Regions from separate parts of the Homo sapiens genome. Here regions 2 and 3 are each linked to region 1. Evidence: fine-mapped QTL for protein levels in blood plasma. A gene starts in region 1. Each other region holds a variant in brackets. All regions are shown on one strand. Distances are between the middles of the regions. Region 1 holds the start of LXN (latexin). Region 2 overlaps RSRC1 (arginine and serine rich coiled-coil 1). Region 3 overlaps RSRC1 (arginine and serine rich coiled-coil 1).

Evidence for each region. PIP is the posterior inclusion probability: the model's chance that the variant is causal. Protein levels are from antibody-based Olink assays in UK Biobank. Linkage for the fine-mapping came from a reference panel and not from the study's own genotypes, which makes the PIPs less certain.
Region 2: its variant is fine-mapped to the plasma level of the LXN protein (UK Biobank, PIP above 0.99).
Region 3: its variant is fine-mapped to the plasma level of the LXN protein (UK Biobank, PIP above 0.99).

The regions. Positions count from the first base shown.
Region 1 is chr3:158,669,732-158,674,731 of GRCh38, reverse strand. LXN (latexin) reads left to right here and starts at 2,084. Exons shown (of 6, transcript NM_020169.4): 1 at 2,084-2,382; 2 at 3,713-3,775. The coding sequence starts at 2,254. The region is part of intron 13 of GFM1 (G elongation factor mitochondrial 1); the gene reads right to left. RefSeq lists enhancers at 1,711-1,900, 2,211-2,260, 1,682-2,274, 2,701-2,760, 2,275-2,867.
Region 2 is chr3:158,328,811-158,334,157 of GRCh38, reverse strand. The region is part of intron 5 of RSRC1 (arginine and serine rich coiled-coil 1); the gene reads right to left. Among named protein-coding and RNA genes, the nearest start is that of UC.134, 200 kb to the left of the region's middle. RefSeq lists an enhancer at 4,163-4,692. The variant C/A (reference allele first, on the strand shown) is at 2,627.
Region 3 is chr3:158,336,631-158,341,977 of GRCh38, reverse strand. The region is part of intron 5 of RSRC1 (arginine and serine rich coiled-coil 1); the gene reads right to left. It also overlaps the pseudogene LILRA2P1. Among named protein-coding and RNA genes, the nearest start is that of UC.134, 190 kb to the left of the region's middle. The variant A/G (reference allele first, on the strand shown) is at 3,113.

The DNA.
Region 1 (5,000 bases):
TATCTTTTCTTTTCAAGGAGAGAGGAAAAAGCTTAAATATAAGCCATGTTATTAATAAAAAACCTTGAAGTATGGAAATAAAATATGGGCAGTCTTCTACTTAAAATGCTCTTAGACAAATAAGACAAATACTGTTCTCCGAAAGTCTTATTTTTTTATTTCTGGTGTTCTTCTAAAGTGTCTCTCAAATGAACAGTCTTCTTCATGTCAAAGTTCCCCAAATTTCACCAATTCTTTGGTAAATTTATCCCAGGAGACAGTGTAAGTTCGTATCTGACAACCCCATCGAAAATTGGCTGATATTCTGTATTTGCAAAAATATTGCCATGGGTGGGTCAGGGTTTAACAAATGCTGAACTAAGAAACGTGGAGAGGCCAGGCACGGTGGCTCATGCCTGTAATCCTAACACTTTGGGAGGCAGAGGAGGGAGGATTGCCTGAACTCAACATGGTGAAACCCCATCTCTACTAAAATACAAAAAAATTAGCCAGGTGTGGTGAAGTGCACCTGTAGTCCCAGATACTAGGGAGGCTGAGGCAGGAGAAATGCTTGAACCTGGGAGGTGGAGGTTGCAGTGAGCCGAGATCACGCCACTGCACTGCAGCCTAGGCAACAGAGCGAAACTCTGTCTCCAAAAAAAAAAAAAAAAAGGTCATGTGTGAAAGACAGTGTCTCGCAAAGCAAATTTCTCATACACGGACAAGACTGAGAAAAGTTTCATTGACATTTGATACAAGATGATGGGCAAGCAGACAGATGGTATTTAAAGGCAAAGTCAATCAGAACCCCCAAATCCCAGGAGACAATAATAAGCATGAAACTGAGGCCAAAGTCCAGAATCCAGATTTACTGCAGAATCTACATAATCAGAAAGAGATACACCTCAAGAGTCTTGGGTGTGTGCATTACTACCAAGTTAAAGGTCCTGGCCAGGCATGGTGGCTTATGCCTGTAATCCCAGCACTTTGGGAGGCTAAGGTGGGTGGATCACCTGAGGTCAGGAGTTTGAGACCAGCCTAGCCTAAACCCGTCTCTACTAAAAATACAAAAAACTAGCCGGGCATTGTGGTGGGCACCTGTAATCCCAGCTACTCTGGAGGCTGAGGCAGGAGAACTGCTTGAACCCAGGAGGCGGACGTTGCAGTGAGCCGAGATAGCACCATTGCACTCCAGCCTAGGCAACAAGAGTGAAATTCCATCTCAAAAAAAAAAAAAAAAAAAAGAAAAGAAAAGAAAAAAAGGTCTCAATCCAGGCAGCGAAGACCTTGGCCAAACTTTGGTAGAATCTCCAAGTTATCCTAGCCCAATTAACCTAAGACCACCAAGGATAAACCTGTACTTCTACAAAGTCAGGTTTATAGGCCCATTGCAATGAGGTAGACCACATACCAGAGAGAGTGCTTTGTATAAGTTCAGTTTTTAAGTTTATTTTAATCCTTGAAGTAAAATATTCAAAATGACTCAAGTTGGAAGCATGGCGTTACATCAAAACTTATCATTTTAAGATTAGTAAAGGAGAGGGGTACAGGTGCATTTTTTTATTTCTCCTGATCCAAATTACATAATCTCCCAATTTAATACTATAGTTTGCAGATTCTCATACTTTGATTTGGGCAGAACTGGTCCAAACCCACAAAAAGCTGAGGATGAGCAAGCCTCTTCCTGGACTCTCATAAGGGGAAGGGAAATGAAGGAATCGAATCACTACCTGGAGTACTGTGTACCTTGCCCTGCCAGGGACGCTGCATGCGGTGTATAAGGAAGTTGTGCTCCAGTATGCAAGCGAAGCAACCAGACTTTTTTCCCATGGACAGGAAACTAGAGTCTTCAGAGATGTCCTATATCAGCGAAAGCCCCACCCTGCACTTCTATAAAGGTTAATGAAACGAAAGATGCAATCCCAGCGAACCTAGCCCACTGACTCCCTCCCCACACCTCCACCTGCTGGTGCCTGACAAGCATGCTGGCCTCTCCTCCAGTAGGAACCAGCAGGCGGAGTAAGGAAGCCCGCTGCAGGCAGTAGTGGGGCGGGGCCTCAGAAGCAGTCAGCCCAGGGCTCTCGGATGCAGGGAGCCTGGGCCCAAACAGCAGCTTCCGGAGTCGGAAGGAGCTGAGGAAGAAGACTGACTGAAGGAGCTTGCGACTTTTCCGCCTCGGCAACCGGACCCAGCAGCAAGCAGGACGGGCGGCGCTCTGCTACTGGTCCCGTTAAGCCAGAGTAGCCCAAGCCCTGAAGTCACTGCTCATCCGGAATGGAAATCCCGCCGACCAACTACCCAGCCTCCAGGGCGGCCTTGGTGGCACAGAACTACATCAACTACCAGCAGGGGACCCCGCACAGGGTGTTTGAGGTGCAGAAGGTCAAACAAGCCAGCATGGAGGTGAGTTTAGCAGGGGGTGGTGGACAGCAGAGGCTTCAGGATTGCGCTCCCTCCACTCACCCGCGGTCTCAGCCTTTGGGTGCAGACACTCCGTGCCACCCCCTACCCACCTTCTGTTTTAGGACACACTGCTGGTATCTGGTCTTGAGATATTAAGGTTTCTGGGGGAATGTCTATACTCCAGTCTCTGGAGACAGCCCGGGACTGTTTTCACCTTAAGGCAGAGACAAAGTTTTTACGCACACAGTTACAAGAAAACGGGAACACGCTCTAGGTAAGGGGCAGCACTTTCCTTAAGTGTAAACTGTAGAAACCATTCAAAAGACTACTAAGGCTGCCACGTTTCTCATCTGCTACTCTGATCTGGACCAACAAAAGCTCCCATCTTCCAAGACTCTATTGCCTACATTTTAAGACAAATCCTTATCAGACCCTTTGACCAAAATGAAGGGGGAAACAAACAGCAAGAGAAACTGACAATCAAAGTCAAAGAATAAAAGCACTGTGGGCTGACGCTGGCCTTTAGCCACCCAAACACCGCTACCACATGACTGCCTTAAATGATGTGCACCCTCTGCTAAAGGCTTGAATTAAATGTTTAAGGCCTCAGCAATCACTAACGAGGTTTGTTTTCATTTTACGAAAATCTACTGGATTTGAGATTATCCCTTATTTATCTGACAGAATTTTAACTGCTAACAGTCTTTTAGAGGTGACACAGTAGATCTTATTTTGAAACTGTACCAGATAACAGAATTAGGTATAAATTTTCAATCTGTATCTTGATTTAAAAGTGAAATACCATTTCTTAGTCTTATATAATTTGTTAATCATTTTGCAGTTTCACTAATGTATAAGTAAAAACAATACTTAATTGTATTAAGTCTCCAATTGCTTTGCAGTAATCTGCCTCAAAATGAAATTCACATTCATTGAACATTATTTGGAGGGTACACTGAGCTTTATGAAAAAATCTTTTCAAAGGTGATATTGTCATCTTTAGAATTAAACGCTGTTTCAAACTTTCTTATGTAGAGACTTTAAGATCACAGATCCAGGGGTTAAATAAAGTCTTTTGATGATTGAAAGTGAATTGTGCCCAATTTGTATGCTTTTATCCTACTCTTTTGTTTTCATCCAAAATAAACTTGATAGGGGACTTGCTAAATTAGATGTTACATTCATGGTGACATGCCTTTTTCAAGACCTAAGGCTTTCACCATTCCCCTTCAGCCAGCCCCTCCAACCAAATGAGATGCATACTTCTAACAATGCAAGTATAATGTTGTTATAATATTTTCTTGTCTCCACTACATTTTCTTAATTTTAGGATATTCCAGGAAGAGGACATAAGTATCACCTTAAATTTGCTGTTGAAGAAATTATACAAAAAGTAAGTTAAATTTCTTTTTTCTTTGAGACAGGGTCTCACTCTATCACCCAGGCTGAAGTGCAGTGGCAGAACATGGCTCACTGCAGCCTCAACTTCCCGGGCTCAGGCCATCTTCCCACCTCAGCCTCCCCAAATAGCTGGGACCACAGGTGCATGCCACTACACCTGGCTAATTTTTGTGATCCTCCTGCCTCTGCCTCCCAAAGTGCTAGGATTACAAGCATGAGCTACCAAGCCCAGCCAAAATGTTCTTATTAAACAAATTTAATTCTAAATATTCCAGATCATCTTTGCTGATCAAATCTGTAAGATTGATTAGTTTTACCTCTTTTTAAAAAGTTGTTGTGAAATACCTGCCTCTGAAAAACACTGACCATATGGGCAAAGTTTACAAGGATCAGTTCTTTACTATCTTTGGGTATTCCTAGGTATATGAATTATTTCTACCAAACTACACAAAAAAAGACTATACACTTCAGTTCAAATGAATTTCTTAAGAAGTTACATACTCTTAGGGCAGTCTGAACTTATGCCTAATATAAATGAGTGAAGTAATTTATTCCCCAATCAATCATCTTCTTAACGTCTGCTTTTCTCATTCTATTTTTCACTGGGTTTTTAGAGAAAGAACGTGCTCTTAGATATTCAGAAGCAATAGAATGCCAGCTGATACCACCATTCAGATGAAGATCTTTCAGTAATGGGGAAGGGAAATTTTAAAGATTATACACAACTGTCAAATTATTAATGAGACAAACTTAAAAGAAAGGAACTGCAATCTGTACCACAGCCATCTTGAAATTTTAAAAAGCTTGCCTTTCTGTTGAGCATAATTCATAAAGAGATTCATTAAAAGGCATCTGAGCTGCTAGACAGCCATCTTTACAAAGCATAACCCAATGCCATAATCTTCTAATTTTATATCCAGACACAGACTGCTGCATCTGCATTTCAAAAACTTTGTTATTTCAGGAGCAAAGAGTAAGAGTAATGGAAAAACTTTAAAAGTAACCAGTCTTGAGTTGGTATATAAAGTCAGATTAAAATCTGGCCTTGCAAATGGACACCCCATTAATACTGAAATATACTGAAAGTTTTAAGACTAGAATTCATAAGATTATGACACCATATCATTTATAAAGTAAGTTATCTATTTTAGGGTATTCACATGATAAGTCTAGAATTTAATAGGCCAGGCCCAATTAGATACCTCTGAAAACAAGCA
Region 2 (5,347 bases), 340 kb after region 1:
TTTAGTATCTTCTTTTATTTAGCATCTTTATAGCCTTCTTTTTTTGCTGCCATAATTTTAAGTATCAGCACATTTTTTAGTCCATAAACATTAACATTTCAGGATGTTCTAGAAAACACGTTATTTTAAACAATTATATAAATGTCTTTCCTGACCCTTTTAGGATTCAGTTTAAAATAATACTTCCCACTTTTTAAATCCTTCTGTAGTGTTGCAATGGTTATTTGTAAGACACCCATTCTCTGTGCTACTTTTCTTTCAACTTCTACTTTTCTTTCAACTTCTTTATTTTGTCTCCCTTTGTATGACTGCTGGAAAGGGAATGGTGTTCTCCTGCAGCACCAATTACCTGGAACAGTCTACCTATTTCTCTCTTTGCTTTAGAGACTTCACATAGATTTTTAATTCCCTTGACAAAACCTTCTGTGTTTTTATTCCAAGTTATAATTTCTATCTTTGAATGCAGTTACTTTACTTTGCCTCTGATAGAGCTTTCAAATTTACTTTTTTGAAGCTTTGTCCTCACTCAATGAAAAGTGCTGAAAGTACTAGAATGCTTTTTACAATATGTTTTGTCCTAAAAAATATATTAAATATCGAGCTGTCTGAACCAATGTGTTCAAAATACACACTAATACAGATTAACCAACTAAAAAAGATCAAACACATACTTTATTTCATGCTACTATAAATGTGTTACAAAAAATAATTTTATTTAAATACTGTACTGAGAGATTTTTCTAGATGGAATATTTGCATAGAGGGCATGTTTCATAGTAATCACTAGTTTTATATGGTAGGAAAAAAGGCAAAACACAAAAGATTAATTGGATGTCAGAAGAACTGCATTCTAGAATTGACTGAGGGCTTTGGTTTCCTTACCTATGCAAGTCTGCTCATCACAATGTTTCTAAAAACAAAAAAGCGTTTGGGAGGCCAAGGTGGGCAGATCATGAGGTCAGGAAATCGAGACCATCCTGGCTACCATGGTGAAACCCTGTCTCTACTAAAAATACAAAAAATTAGCTGGGCATGGTGGCAGACACCTGTAGTCCCAGCTACTTGGGAGGCTGAGGCAGGCGAATGGCGTGAACCCGGGAGGCGGAGCTTGCAGTGAGCCAAGATAGCGCCACTGCAGTCCGGCCTGGGCGAAAGAGCGAGACTCTGTCTCAAAAAAAAAAAAAAACAAAAAACAGAAAAGCATCCCTAAGAGAAAAATGATTAAATAAATTATGGTCCAAATCCATGATGGAAGTAGCATAACAGTCAATTTTTCAAATGTAAAGACATTTAGTAACATGCAGAAATGCTAACATTACATTTTTTAAAAACTACAAAACTATGTAAAATGATCCAGATTTGGAAAAAAAAATTCAAAATAATATGCTATCATAGAAAAATACATAGCAAAATGGTAATAATTTTTCTTTTTCTTTTTTATCCTTAATCCTATCTGTTTTCTAAGTAAAATTTGACTGGATGGATCAGGGAAAAATGGATATTATGACAAAAGGAAAAAATCTTTAAAAGATAAGGAAAATAGTAAATTAAAAATTTTGAAGTTTATAATTAAGTACAAAGTATGTTTATATCACACGTTTTCATAAAAACAGTCTCCCTATTTAAGAAATGTTTAAGTTTTGCAAGAAATATTTAAGTTTTGCCTGTAATCTAACTTTTGACACCTACTCCTGCTCCTACCATGAGGTTACGGATTTATTTTAAGAGGTGAAACTTATAATGAATAAACATACCAGTTTTTTGCCCCAGGAGACCTAGAATCAATAACTGGCTCAAGTAATAAGTGAAAATGATATAGATGATCAAACACGGATGTTTTAGTCAACATTAGTATAATCACAAAACCACTTCACAATTCATCATAACTAATGATCTCTACTTCAGGAAAGTCCAAAACTATGGGTGTTGTTAGTTATGATTAAAAAGTATTGGCAGAAACTTGATTGCTAATTTATGATGGTATATTTCTTTTAAAATTCTAATGTAGAGCCAAAGTAAGATAAATATATATAATGAATACATTATTCCTTGGGCTTTCATTCTAAAACAATCAGAGATCCCTCTCTCTTTCTTGCTAGTCTCTTTGTGACTCCTCTTTTCTGACCTAAAAAATGACATAAATTAAGTTCTACTTTTATTTATGAAATTTGCTACATTAATAACAATATATAATCAAAAGTACTGCTTTGTATACTTTAAAAGATATATATTATGAAAGAGCAACTAAATAATATATTAGTATGGTAGTGTAGGAATGATAATCCAACTCTTTACCACATGATTAACACCCACTTATACTTAAAAAAAAAAAAAGACCACTATACCAAAATGAAAAAAAATATGTAATCTTATTCAGGTTTTTTGCATATATTTTGTTTTTTATTTGTTAGGCCATGAGGAAAAAAATATTCCAATAAGGAAAATGAATACACTTCAAAAAAACTTCAAGATTAAACTATATGAAATACTGATACTTAATCATTTGTTAACTATAAAAGTGGCAAGTTCATTTGGTTCAAACTAACAGAATAAGAATTCACATGGGAGAAGGGCTGAATTTTTAGGCTTAGAAGTAACAGAAGAAATCATAAAGAAAAAAACCCAA[C/A]AGATTTGACTACATAAAAATATTCAATTTTATATAAAAAGTATCCAGCAACACAGAACTAAAATAAAATGGCAAAACAGTGACAATAAATTTATTAGAAACAAATTTAACCAAGTTAATAGCTTCATTCAAAAAAAGTTCTTGTAAGTTTATAACAAAATCACTAATTCTTAAAAGAGAACAAAAAAGCATAAGAAACTCACACGCACAAAAGACTACTAGTCAAGCTCTCTCCTCAAATTTCTCTTGTAGAATTCACTATGCCATTATTAAAATATGTAAATGTGAAAAATATAAATGACAGCTAATTCTAGCCAATGATGTTGATATGGTTTGGCTGTGTGTGTTCCCCTCACCCTCTGAGCCCAACACCAAATCTCAAATTGTAGCTCTCATAATTCCCAAGTGTTGTGGGAGGGACCCAGTGGGAGGTAACTGAATCATGGGAGCAGGGCTTGTGATAATGATTAAGTCTCAAGAAATCTAATTGGTTTTACAAAGGGGAATTCCCCTGCACATGCTCTCTGTATCGTCTGCTGCCATGTGAGACATGACTTTGCTCCTACTTTGTCTTGTGCTATGATTGTGAGGCCTCCCCAGCCACATGGAGCTGTGAGTCCATTAAACCTTTTTTTTTTTTTTTAATAAGTTACCCAGTCTCAGGTAGGTCTTTATTAGCAGCATGAGAACAGACTAATACAGATGTAAAACTCTCATGCCTCATTAGCGGTATTATAAATTGATATAATATTTATAGAAAGCAATTTAAAATTATGTGAATGGAGCCCTTCAAGTACTCATACTCCTTGAGAAAATGTTTCCAATTTGGGGACCTAGAGAAAATATTTAAAACATGGAAAAGCTAAGAACATTCAGATATTCAGAAAATTCCTTAGAAGAGCAAAGATCAAAAAATAACCTAAATATCCAACAATAAAGAACTAGTTAGGTCACTCTACTTAATGAGATATAGTGTACCTATTGAAAACAATGACAATGTTAACACGAAAAGGTGTCCAAAATTGCCTACCATCCAGAAAATGGTAGGGTACTATATATTAAGAACATTTAAAATACTCATACCCTTTGACATAGGATTTTCATTTTAAGAATCTAGCCTAATGCAATTATTTAAGATACGTACAAAAATCTGTTCATAGAACATTAGCAAGATGGCTGAATAGGAACAGCTCCAGTCTACAGCTCCCAGAGTGAGCGACGCAGAAGACGGGTGATTTCTGCATTTCCAACTGAGGAAATCTCACTGGGGCTCGTCAGACAGTGGGGGCAGGACAGTGGGTGCAGTCCACCTAGTGTGAGCTGAAGCAGGGCGAGGCATCGCCTCATCCAGGAAGTGCAAGGGGTCAGGGAATTCCCTTTACTAGCCAAGGGAAGGGGTGACAGATGGCACCTGGAAAATCGGGTCACTCCCACCCTAATACTGCACTTTTCCAAGGGTCTTAGCAAACGGCACACCAGGAGATAATATCCTGCGCCTGGCTCGGAGGGTCCAACGCCCACGGAGCCTCGCTCATTGCTAGCACAACACTCTGAGATCGAACTGCAAGGCGGCAGCGAGGCTGGTGGAGGGGTGCCCACCGCTGCTGAGGCTTGAGTAGGTGAACAAAGCAGCCCAGAAGCTCGAACTGGGTGGAGCCCACCTCAGCTCAAGGAGGCCTGCCTGCCTCTGTAGACTCCACCTCTGGGGGCAGGGCATAGACAAACAAAAGGCAGCAGAAATCTCTGCAGAGTTAAACGTCCCTGTCTGACAGCTTTGAAGAGAGTAGTGGTTCTCTCAGCACGGAGTTTGAGATCTGAGAATGTTCAGACTGTCTCAAGTGGGTCCCTGATCCCCGAGTAGCCTAACTGGGAGGCACCCCCCAGTAGGGGCACACTGACAGCTCACACAGCCGGGTACCCCTCTGAGATGAAGCTTCCAGAGGAACGATCAAGCAGCAACATTTGCTGTTCAGCAATATTCGCTGTTCTGCAGCCTCTGCTGCTGATACCCAGGCAAACAGGGGCTGGAGTGGACCTCCAGCAAACGCCAACAGACGTGCAGCTGAGGGTCCTGACTGTTAGAAGAAAAACTAACAAACAGAAAGGACATCCACACCAAGACCCCAACTGTATGTCACCATCATGAAAAACCAAAGGTAGATAAAACCACAAAGATGGAGAAAAAACAGAGCAGAAAAGCAGAAAATTCTAAAAATCAGAGCACCTCTCCCCCTCCAAAGGAACGTAGCTCCTCGCAAGTAATGGAACAAAGCTGGATGCAGAATGACTTTGACGAGTTGAGAGAAGAAAGTTTCAGACGATCAAACTTCTCAGAGCTAAAGGAGGAAGTTCGATCCCAATGCAAAGAAGATAAAAACCATGAAAAAAGATTAGATGAATGGCTAACCAGAATAACCAGAGTAGAGAAGTCCTTAAATGACCTGATGGAGCTGAAAACCATGGCACAAGAACTATGTGACAAATGCACAACCTTCAGTAGCTGATTTGATCAACTGGAAGAAAGGGTATCAGGGATGGAAAATCAAATGAATGAAATGAAGTGAGAAGAGAAGCTTAGAGAAAAAAGAGCAAAAAGAAATGAACAAAGCCTCCAAGAAATATGGGACTATGTGAAAAGACAAAATCTACGTCTGATTGGTGTACCTGAAAGTGATGGGGAGAATGGAACCAAGCTGGAAAACACTCTTCAGGATATTATCC
Region 3 (5,347 bases), 330 kb after region 1:
CCCATGCAAGTCCGAAATCCAGTGGGGCAGTCAAACTTTAAAGTTCCAAAATTATCTCCTTTGACTCCAGGTCTCAAATTCAGATTACGCTGATGCAAGAGGTGGGTTCCCATGGTCTTGGGCAGCTCCACCCCGTGACTTTGCCTGGTACAGCCTCCCTCCCGGCTGCTTTCATGGGCTAGCATTGAGTGTCTGTGGCTTTTCCAGGCACACGGTTCAAGCTGTCAATAGATCTGTGATTCTGGGGCCTGAAGGATGGTGGCCCTCTTCTCACAGATCTACTAGGCAGCACCCCACTAGGGACTCTGTGTGGGGGCTCTGACCCCATATTTCCATTCTGCACTGTCCTGGCAGAGGTTCTCCATTAGGGCCCTGCTCCTGCAGCAAACTTTTGCCTGGGCAACCAGGCGTTTCCAAACATCTCCTGAAATCTAGGCACAGGTTCCCAACCCTCAATTCATGACTTCTGTGCACCTGCAGGCTTAATAACACCTGGAAGCTTCCAGGGCTTGGGGCTTCCACCCTCTGAAGCTACAGCCCGAGCTGTACATTGGCTCTTTTCAGCCATGGCTGGAGTGGCTGGGACACAGGGCACGAAGTCCCTAGGCTGCACACAGCATAGGGACCTGGACCTGGCCCACGAAACCACTTTTTCCTGCTGGGTCTCTGGGCCTGTGATGGGAGGGGCTGCCATGAAGGTCTCTGACATGGCCTGGAGACATTTTCCCCATGGTCTTGGGGATTAACATGAGGCTCCTTACTACTTATGTAAATTTCTGCAGCCAGCTTGAATTTCTCCCCAGAGAATGTTTTTTTTTCTATTGCGTAGTCAGGCTGCAAATTTTCTGAACTTTTATGCTCTGTTTCTCTTTTAAGACTGAATGCCTTTAACAATACCCAAGTCACCTCTTGAATGCTTTGCTGCTTAGAAATTTCTTCCACCAGATACCCTAAATCATCCACAAATCTCTAGGGTGGGGGCAAAATGCCACCAGTCTCTCTGCTAAAACATAACAAGAGTCACCTTTGCTCCAGTTCCCAACAAGTTCCTCATCTCCATCTGTGACCACCTCAGCCTGGATTGTATTGTCCGTATCGCTATCAGCATTTTGGGCAAAGCCATTCAACAAGTCTCTAGGGAGTTCCAAACTTTCCCACATTTTCCTCCACAGGAGGTACTGTTCCAGCCTCTGCCTGTTACCCAGTTCCAAAGTCGTTTCCACATTTTCAGGTATCTTTTCAGCAACACCCCATTCTATTGGTACCAATTTACTGTATTAGTCCGTTTTCAAACTGCTAATAAAGACATACCCGACACTGGGAACAGAAAGAGGTTTAATTGGTCTTACAGTTCCACATGGCTGGGGAGGCCTCAAAATCATGGTGGGAGGCAAAAGGCACTTCTTTTTTTTGTCTTTCTTTTCTTTTTCTTTTTTTGAGACGGACTCTTGCTCTGTCGCCCAGGCTGGAGTGCAGTGGTGTGATCTCAGCTCACTGCAACCTCCGCCTCCCGGGTTCAAGCGATTCTCCTGCCTCAGCCTCCTGAGTAGCTAGGACTACAGGTGCATGCCATCATGCCCAGCTAATTTTTGTATTTTTAGTAGAGCCAGGGTTTCACCATATTGGGCAGGCTGGTCTTGAACTCCTGACCTTGTGATTCACCCACCTCGGCCTCCCAAAGTGCTGGGATTACAGGTGTAAGCCACCATGCCTGGCCAGGGAGCGGCAAGAGAAAAATGAGGAGGAAGCAAAAGCAGAAACCCCTGATAAAGTCATCAGATCTCGTGAGACTTATTCACTATCACGAGAATAGCACAGGAAAGACCAGCCCCCATGATTCAATTACCTCCCCCTGGATCCCTCCCACAACACATGGGAATTATGGGAGATACAATTCAAGTTGAGATTTAGTGGGGACACAGCCAAAGCATATCACTCTACATATAAATCTATATGTTGCCTTTGTCTCCATAACTTCCTGTTCCTAACTAATGAGTGTTCTTTCAAAGCTCAGCTCAAGTAACATCACTTTCAGAAAATCTCATCAGTTTTAGCTTATTTTCTCCCTAACTCTCTTCCTGATGATTACAATTTCCTGCTCTGTCTTCCTGTAATGCCCTGGGGAAACATGTATCAGCACACTTATCATTTTCAGTTTAATTAATTGTTCTGTTGTCTGTCTTTTCTACCAGGCTATCAGCTTTTTGAAAGCAACCATTGTCTTATATCTCTGTATCATTAGCACCTAGGAGAGTGCCTGAAATACAGTTGGTGATCAGTAAGTATATATTTGAGATAAACTTCCTTGTAAACTTTAAAATCCTCCTTAGTGTCATACATAATTTACTTTTGAATTATCAATTTCACTGAAATCTATCTCTTAGGAAGGATTCATCCAACTCAAAGAGCTGGATGTTTAAGGGAATGATAATGGTGTAAGAGAAATTACAACACATGGTAATAATAAACCACGTAATCTACATTATAAATAATAATTAACCAAACTATTTGGTAATACAATGGCAATTCTTAAAGTGATCTTATGAGCTCCAAATGCACATAAGTGATAACTTCTATGTGCCATATCTTTCCCAGACAACATGACAGACATTCCTGAAATAGAACATTAGCTGCCTGAAAAATATTAGTATCATTTTTTTTTTTTTTTTTTTTTTTTTTGAGACGGAGTCTCGCTCTGTCGCCCAGGCCGGACTGCGGACTGCAGTGGCGCAATCTCTGCTCACTGCAAGCTCCGCTTCCCGGGTTCACGCCATTCTCCTGCCTCAGCCTCCAGAATAGCTGGGACTACAGGCGCCCGCCACCGCGCCCGGCTAATTTTTTGTATTTTTAGTAGAGACGGGGTTTCACCTTGTTAGCCAGGATGGTCTCAATCTCCTGACCTCATGATCCATCCTCCTCGGCCTCCCAAAGTGCTGGGATTACAGGCGTGAGCCACCGCGCCCGGCCCTAGTATCATTTTTGAAAAAATATAATATCTATTATTTATCATATGCTTATAATGTTCGAGATCCCATGCTAAACATTTTACATACCTCATTTAACAAAATTCTCACAACATTCCTAACAAGGCAGGCATTCTTAATGCTTTTAG[A/G]GAAGAATAAGTTACCTTAAATGGCAAAGCTGACAAGGTGGCAGAGCTTGAATTTTAATTCAGCTCACAACATCTAAGCCTTAACAATACTACACTGCTTACAACAGCTTGAGATCCATTTGCTCATTAACTTTCATAGGGAAAAAAGATAAATCTAATCATTTTTAATTGCCAGAAAAGACTATGCAGAGTTAAAACTAAATTTCCTTTAGTCTTTGGATGCTACCATTAATGGCCTTAAAGGTTGTGAGCACCATCTAAAAAGCTAATTTTAATCATGCTTTCTCAGATGCACAACTTTAAAAAACTACTAAACATATTTGCAGTGTAGGTACTGTGCAGTTTCCTTTAAATGTAATCTCACTATGACAGAGACACATATCAACAGCTTATCATATTTCTAGCTACATTTCATTTTAACAGTTACTATAATTCTATCTCTTAGGATCAAGGTCTAAGCTAGAGATATTACAAATAGCTCAAAAGTAGATTTATCTTGCCTCTAGAACTTAGTACCAAGTTGGTTTAAATAAAAACCAAAAGAAGAAAAGAAAAAAACCCAAGAACATGTTTTCCATTCTTGATAGCAAATTCATCTGAAGAGTTTTATCAAACATTTTCTCTAAACAGTTTAAGGGGTTTGCAAAAAAAAAAAGCAAAGTTATATAATAGCTGTCTTTATTAAAAACCAGAGAAAGATGCCATTTTATATACATATTTCATAGATGAGGATGTTAAACTATAAAGGTGAAACTGAAGCAAAGGTTACAACATCCTTGAGGACTTGCTTGAGAGCCCATATTCATGATCCAATACTATTACCTCCTCAGTGATGCTGCTTGTATACTATACAAATACATAGCCATACAAAAGCCTCAGCATCTAATGAATTAAGAGCTGACTTAAAAATGTAGAATAATAATTCAATCTACCACAGATTTTGTACAGATTAAATGTAATCCTTCTCCATGTAATCATCATAAAATGAAAACTCAGTAAAGCGTTAGCTATTAAATTATTTCAGATTTTTGGAGAGAAGTGGTTCATGAGGGTATAAGGAAGGTAAGATTTTACATCGAGGCTACCTGTTTAGCTAGGAGAATCGATAGCATAGCTACTAAGTAAGGTGCAGCCAGGATGAGATAGGTTTTAGAACACAGGAAGGACTTAACATAATGGAGGTATCTTGTTTAGGTCAAAATTGACCCCCATGGACAGATTCAGTGCTAACAATATGTTAGGAATATAGAAAGGGAAGAAAGGGAAACTAATAATTATTCTAACCACCTCTCCAGCAATGCCTATTCTGGACAGTTTGTACCCACTATGATCATAGATTTGCAGGAACTCATCATCATTTCCCTATTATGTATGTAAAGAGATGGAAGCTCAGCATTAAGAAGCAAGGGCCATGCGCCCACACAGCATTTCAGAGCAGCTCTCGGATTGGCAGTTCTCCCTGTCCTGTTACTTAGTCTGAGACTCTCTTACCCCATGCTTTGTACAAAGATTAAAATGCTGATGTGGGACTGGGGACAGAAAAAACGGATCACATGAGACTGATTTTAGTTGGAAGTGCAGATGATGAATGTCTTCATGATAGCAAGGACTTCTGCAGCCCCACTCAGAAGGAGGTGGAATGAGGATGTGGAATGAGGATGTGGAATGTCTTCGCTCTCCGCGTGGGAAGCGGGACACTCCTACAACTTCCTGCAGGTCTTTCTCACATGGCAGAGGACCTGTTCTTCATAAGAGCAGCATTGGTGAGGCCAGGGAGACTGTTTAGACACAGGATCATAAATGTGGTTCTTCTTACCCTACTTTGTCTTGGGTCCTATCCATGCCAGTTAACTCAGGCACAGACGGGAAATCTCCCACCTCTTATCACGGCTATGCCGGGCTCCCTGATTTCATCTAACAAGTCTGTAAGCATCCTGGTCAAGGGCCATCAGAAACTGAAACACATAGGATATGTAACGTGGAAAGTCCTGAGCCCTCCAACAGAAATAAATGAGTGTGGGAAGACGAACATAAGGAATATCACAGAGATGCTGCCAAACAGGTCAGGGCTGTACCACTGTTACTACTGAAGCAGAGACCACTAGTCTGAGTGAACCTCTGAAGCTGGTAATGACCACAGCTTATGACAAACCCTTTCTCTCAATCATGCCAGGCACTGAGGTGGCATCACGAGAGAATATGAAGTTGCAATGTTTCTCAAAATTTGAACTTGGT